Linked DNA regions of Homo sapiens: region 1 is linked to region 2. The links come from fine-mapping of genetic effects on gene expression. A gene starts in region 2. The other region holds a variant in brackets. All regions are shown on one strand. Distances are from middle to middle. Region 1 overlaps EPN1 (epsin 1). Region 2 holds the start of NLRP9 (NLR family pyrin domain containing 9).

Region 1 (2,915 bases), 32 kb after region 2:
TTAGCTTTTCATCTTGGAAAGTTATTTTGGTCTTTCCTTTACCCGAAATAGAGACACTGTCATATTCCACAGAAGGGGCTCAACATGGAGAACATACCCCTGACACCAGTTTCACATTTGACTGGTTTTTGGGTATTTATTTTCATTTGTTATTTGTTCTTTCTTTTGTTTTAGAGTCAGGGTCTGCTTTTTGGCTCAGTCTGGAGGGCAGTGGTGCCATCATAGCTCACTGCAGCCTTGAACTCCTGGGTTCAAGTGATGCTCCTGCCTCAGCCTCCTGTGTAGCTGGGACCACAGGTGCACACTACCGTTCCTTTTTTTTTTTTTTTGAGAGACAGCCTCACTCTGTTGCTCGCCCAGGCTGGAGTGCAGTGGCACAATCTCGGCTCACTGCAGCCTCCGTCTCCTGGGTTCAAGTGATTCTCCTGTCTCAGCCACCTGAGTAGCTGGGATTTCAGGCATGCGCCACCATGCCCTGCTAGTTTTTGTTTTGGTATTTTTAGTAGAGATGGGGTTTTGCCATGTTGGTCAGGCTGGTCTCAAACTCCTGACCTGAGGTAATCCGCCTGCCTCGGCCTCCCAAAGTGCTGGGATTACAGGCCTGAGCCACCGCGCTCAGCCCATTTAAATATTTTTTAGTATAGACGGGGTCTCACTATGTTTCCCAGGCTGGTCTGGTACTCCTGGCTTCAAGTGATCCTCCCACTTCAGCCTCTCAAACTGCTGGGATTACAGGCACAAGCCATCGCACCTGGCCCATTTACTTTTTTTTTTTAATCTCTCTTTACTATTGTTTTTTAAATCTCTCTTTACTATTGTTTTTTAAATCTCTCCCTTCCCTTCCCCTCTTTTCTTTCTTTCCTTTTCCTTCCCCTTCCCTCCTTTTTCTCTCTTTCCTGCAATGCTGCAATCTTGGCTCACTGCAGCCTCTGCCTCTGGGTTCAAGCGATTCTCCCGCCTTAGCCTACTGAGGAGCTGAGATTACAGGCATCTGCCATCATGCCCGGCTAATTTTTGTATTTTTAGTAGAGACAGGGTTTTGCCATGTCGGCCAGGCTGGTCTCGAACTCCCAACCTCAGGTGATCCACCCGCCTCAGCCTCCCAAAGTGCTAGGATTTCAGACATGAGCCACCACGCCCGGCCCTCTTTCACTTTTCTAAAACAGTACGCCACTGCATTCCAGCCTGGGTGACAGAGCGAAACACGGTCTTTTAAAAAAAAAAAAAAAAGAAGAAGAAAAAGAGAAGAAAGGAAGAAAAGAGGAGGAAAAAGGAGAAGAAAGAGGAGGAAAGGAAGAAAGAAAAATAAAGGAAGAAAGGAGGAGAAAAAGGAGGAAGAGGAAGAAGAAAAGAGAGGAGGAGGAGGAAGAAGAAATCAAAGTTCTCCAGTCTCATAAACCTGCACATGCAGAGAATCTGGAAAAACTAAAGCTGGGTTGTTCCCCAACCAATGGACATTCTATGGTCCCTTTTCTTCCAGATAATAAGGCCTTCTTTGTAACTGCTATGCAGACCTCTGGCTTCCCATCCAGCATACCTGAACTAAGACTTATTTTGTCTTACACTTTATACTCACTGAAAATCAAGAATCCCATGGTGAGCTATGATCACACACTGC[A/C]ATGCAGCTTTAGTGATAGAGCAAGACCTTGTCTCTAAATATATATATATATCCCACAACACTCTAAATATATATATATATATATATCCCACAACAACAAATATTCCAGCCACAATGTCAGTATGACTGTTGAAGAACCTGACCTTATGATTGACATGTCATTTTCTCGATACTTTCAAGATTTTCTCTACCTTTGGCCTTTATTAACTTGACTCTGATAATGTTCGGGGATACTTTTCTTTTTTCTAAGAAAGGGTCTTGCTCTGTTGTCCATGCTGGAGTGCAATGGTGCGATCTCGGCTCACTGCAACCTCCACCTCCCGGGCTCAAACGATTCTCCCATCTCAGCATCCCGAGTAGCTGGGACTACAGGTGCATGCCACTATGCATGACTAATTTTTGTATTTTTAGTAGAGATGGTGATTTTGTCATGTTGGCCAGGCTGGTCTCGAACTCCTGACCTCAAGTCATCCATTCGCCCCGGCCTCCCAAACTGCTGGAATTACAGGCTCACGCCACTTCATGAAATGTGTTGTAGTGGCTCTGGATTCTGTATCGTTCTGAGAGGTTTTTTTCATTGGTTTGTTTTCGTTTTTGTGTGTTTCCGTAGGCAAAAAAGTTGCCTGGACAGGTTTACAAAACATATCTCCCCATCTCCCTGCAGTCAGCAGCTATCGGTATCTATGCTAAGTTCCTTCAAAGACTCCTAAGAGGTCTCCATGGACCTCTGAAGTTTAATAGTCAATGATTGGGTCAGAGCTTACTCAGAAACCTCAGGCCAGTGAGGCTTCCAACCTCTGCAGCCCAGGCTGAGTGGCTTGAGTAGCACATTCACTGTGTGGCAGAACTGCGAGTCTGCCCAGGCTTTTCATTTCTTCTGGGCTCCCTGGTGCCTCCCACGTGCATGTGTAGAACAGCATTCAGCCAGAGATGCTTGGGAAGTGGATGAGAACAGCATTCAGCCAGAGATGCTTGGGAAGTGGATGATGTCTACCATTCTACGGATCACTTGCGATGCTTATTTCCCAGGGAACAGAAATGAAGTGGGGCCAGGCCATCTCCTGTCTCTGTTGTCTGTATTACAGAAGGAAGGGAGCGGTGCTGGAGCAGGGGGCCCAGGAGCATCACAGGCGGCAGGCCAAGGAGAGAGATGTAGGTGGCAGGACCCTCCAGGGACTCGGGAGAGACACATGCGTGAGCTTTTGCGATACGGGGTGAGACAGCAAGGGTGCTGTGGGGTGTGTGTGCCTTCCCCCAGACAGTGTGGATGGCTGCATTCATGTTAGGGCTGTCATAA
Region 2 (2,915 bases):
CAACATGGTGAAACCCCATCTCTACTAAAAATACAAAAAAAAAAAATTAGCCGGGCATGGTGGCAGGTGCCTGTAATCCCAGCTACTTGGGAGGACGAGGCAGGAGAATCATTTGAACCTGGGAGGCAGAGGTTGCAGTGAGCTGAGGTCATACCATTGCATTCTAGTCTGGGCAACAAGAGTGAAACTCTATCTCAAAATACATATCTATATATATTTGGTATTATTTTTGCCACCTGTCTTATTTTGTCTACCATATATTTCTACTTCATTTCCTGTCTTTTGTTGAATTGCAATGATTATCTGAAGGGTTTATAATACTGGGAACGTTCACTGCTCTGTTTCTGTCTGAGTTGTCTGCAGATGCTAACCTATAGTAAATCTAACTTTTTCCTTATATACTGTAATAAGAAGGCATATACCGGCCGGGCACGGTGGCTCATGCCTGTAATCCCAGCACTTTGGGAGGCCGAGGCGGGTGGATCACGAGGTCAGGAGATCGAGACCATCCTGGCGAACACAGTAAAACCCCATCTCTACTAAAAATACAAAAAAATTAGCCGGGTGTGGTGGCAGGCACCTGTAGTCCCAGCTACTCAGGAGGCTGAGGCAGGAGAATGACGTGAACCCGGGAGGCAGAGCTTGCAGTGAGCCGAGATTGCGCTACTGCACTCCAGCCTGGGCATCAGAGCGAGACTCTGTCTCAAAAAAAAAAAAAAAAAAGAAGGCATATACCACTAAACGATAAAAAAAAATTTAAATTTGCTTTTATGTCCTCTTCCTTTATTTTCATCTTCCTGAATGTGATCATCTGTAATTTTAATATCCGTTCATTTTTTCATTATCAAAATTGGATTAGACTATACTAAGGATGGGAAGGTCTACAGAGCAAACAAACTCATAGAATGCTGGTAGGAATGTCAGTAATTATATACACAAGGGAAAACCGTTGAGTGTTATGTAGCAAACATGGTGACCTGTGTTTGCTGTTTGACCTATAATTTATAAATCTAGAGAAATGTGTGCTTATATACACCAAACTACACAAAAACACTTGTTCCTGGAAGCATCATTTATGTCAGACAAAAACAAGACACATAAGTGGCAGTCAACTCTACCATTCACATGCATTTGTTTGGAAAAAGATGAAGCTTCTTCCCTAGATGATGTTTGGTGCAAGCTACGCATGATGATATCAATAATTTTGAGCTGCTTTCAGCTGCTGAAGCTTAACTCTGTAATCATGTCATTCTTCTCCAGGTATCATTTATTCTTTATTTTTGAGGATCTTTCTTTTCCCTCTGGAGACACCTCAGTTCACAATCCTGGGGCGATATGGCAGAATCTTTTTTTTCGGATTTTGGCTTGTTGTGGTATCTGAAGGAGCTCAGAAAGGAAGAGTTTTGGAAATTTAAGGAGCTCCTCAAACAACCTTTGGAGAAATTTGAACTCAAGCCAATCCCCTGGGCTGAGCTGAAGAAGGCCTCCAAAGAAGATGTAGCAAAGCTGCTGGACAAACATTACCCAGGAAAGCAGGCATGGGAGGTAACACTGAACCTGTTTCTACAGATCAATAGGAAAGATCTCTGGACAAAGGCTCAGGAAGAGATGAGAAGTAAGTGCTGGATGATGGGGCGAGGACCCATGGGGGAAGCCTGGGAACAAGGTGATAGCATTGTTAAATGAGTGGCCACCCCCTCCATCAGATGAGAATGTGTGTGGGTCAAGGTGAGAGTTGAAGGTAGGAAGAGTTGCAGGCCAGGGCTGTTCATATGTGGGCCAGCGATGAACTGGGGACAGATGGCGTCCTGATACCAACTGTTCACCTATGGAGTGTCTTCCCATTTTTCCACCCCAAGTGGAGTCGTTGTTATAGGAGATGAGTGGCCAGTTAGTGTCTGCATTGCCAGGTCTACTGAGATGGAATTCTAGTATGGTAGTTGCCTATCTTTTTTTTTTTTTTTTTTTTTTTTTTAGAGAAAGGGTCTTGCCATGTTGCTCAGGCTGGTCTTGAACTCCCAGGCTCAAGTGATCCACCTGCCTAGGCATCCCAAAGTGCTGTGATTACAGGAGTGAGCCACCATGCCTAACTGCCTGTCCTTTTTGACCAGACATGTACCAAGGAGTAGGTAGAATCTTAAGACAATCAGACAGCGTATGTCCCGGGTACTACAGGAAGCATTCTTGCGAGCTTGTTTGGAGGTTCTAGTAGGGGAGCACAGCTTCTCTTCTGCCCGCGATGGAAGGACCTTCCTCTATGGGCAAAGGTTGTCATCGTCTTTGACCCAGGGGAGACTTTCAGGACGGACGCATATGGAGCAGTGAGGGAGGAAGTGGACACCCACCCAGCTGGCCACATCAGCCGAATTAGCCCTGGGGCGACCAATGGGGTGACAGACATCACAGCCAGGTTGTCCTCACGTCCTGGAAGCATTCTTTCTGCATAATGTCTTTTCATTCTTATCACAACCCAGGAAAGGTTTACAAGTGAGAAAACTGGACAAAACAGTGTTCCCATGTGTTACATGACTTTTCCAAAAGTGACAGATCTGACTCCGAACCAGTTCTGCTGGACTCATTGATGGGGTCTACACCCTCCTCTCGGGGGATACTTAGGAAAAACTAAATATATTCCCTATTAGGTATCTAGTAATTAGCATTTGTTTCTGATGATTGTTATCTTCTCCCTTTACTTTTGAGTTCCATCAACTTCTGTTACGTTTACTTCTGTTTTGTTCATGTTTCTTCTTTGTGTTGGTAATTCTAATTTGAGACCTTATTTCGTATCCCCACATGCTTGAGGGTATTTTATTTGGTTTGGAGTTGCTTGCTGTGTTAGTTTTTTGTTTTTTTTTTTGTTTTTGTTTTATTTTTTTGAGACGGAGTCTTGCTCTGTTGCCCAGGTTGGAGGGCAG

Evidence for each region. PIP is the estimated chance that this variant, and not a neighbour inherited with it, causes the effect.
Region 1: its variant is fine-mapped to the expression of NLRP9 in tibial artery (GTEx, PIP above 0.99). The same link has a PIP of 0.9 or more in aorta and coronary artery.

The regions. Positions count from the first base shown.
Region 1 is chr19:55,704,599-55,707,513 of GRCh38, reverse strand. It overlaps EPN1 (epsin 1), which reads right to left. Exons shown (of 11, transcript NM_001130072.2): 11 at 1-2,915. Among named protein-coding and RNA genes, the nearest start is that of EPN1, 31 kb to the right of the region's middle. The variant A/C (reference allele first, on the strand shown) is at 1,619.
Region 2 is chr19:55,736,795-55,739,709 of GRCh38, reverse strand. NLRP9 (NLR family pyrin domain containing 9) reads left to right here and starts at 1,308. Exons shown (of 9, transcript NM_176820.4): 1 at 1,308-1,615. The coding sequence starts at 1,336. It also overlaps the pseudogene RN7SKP109.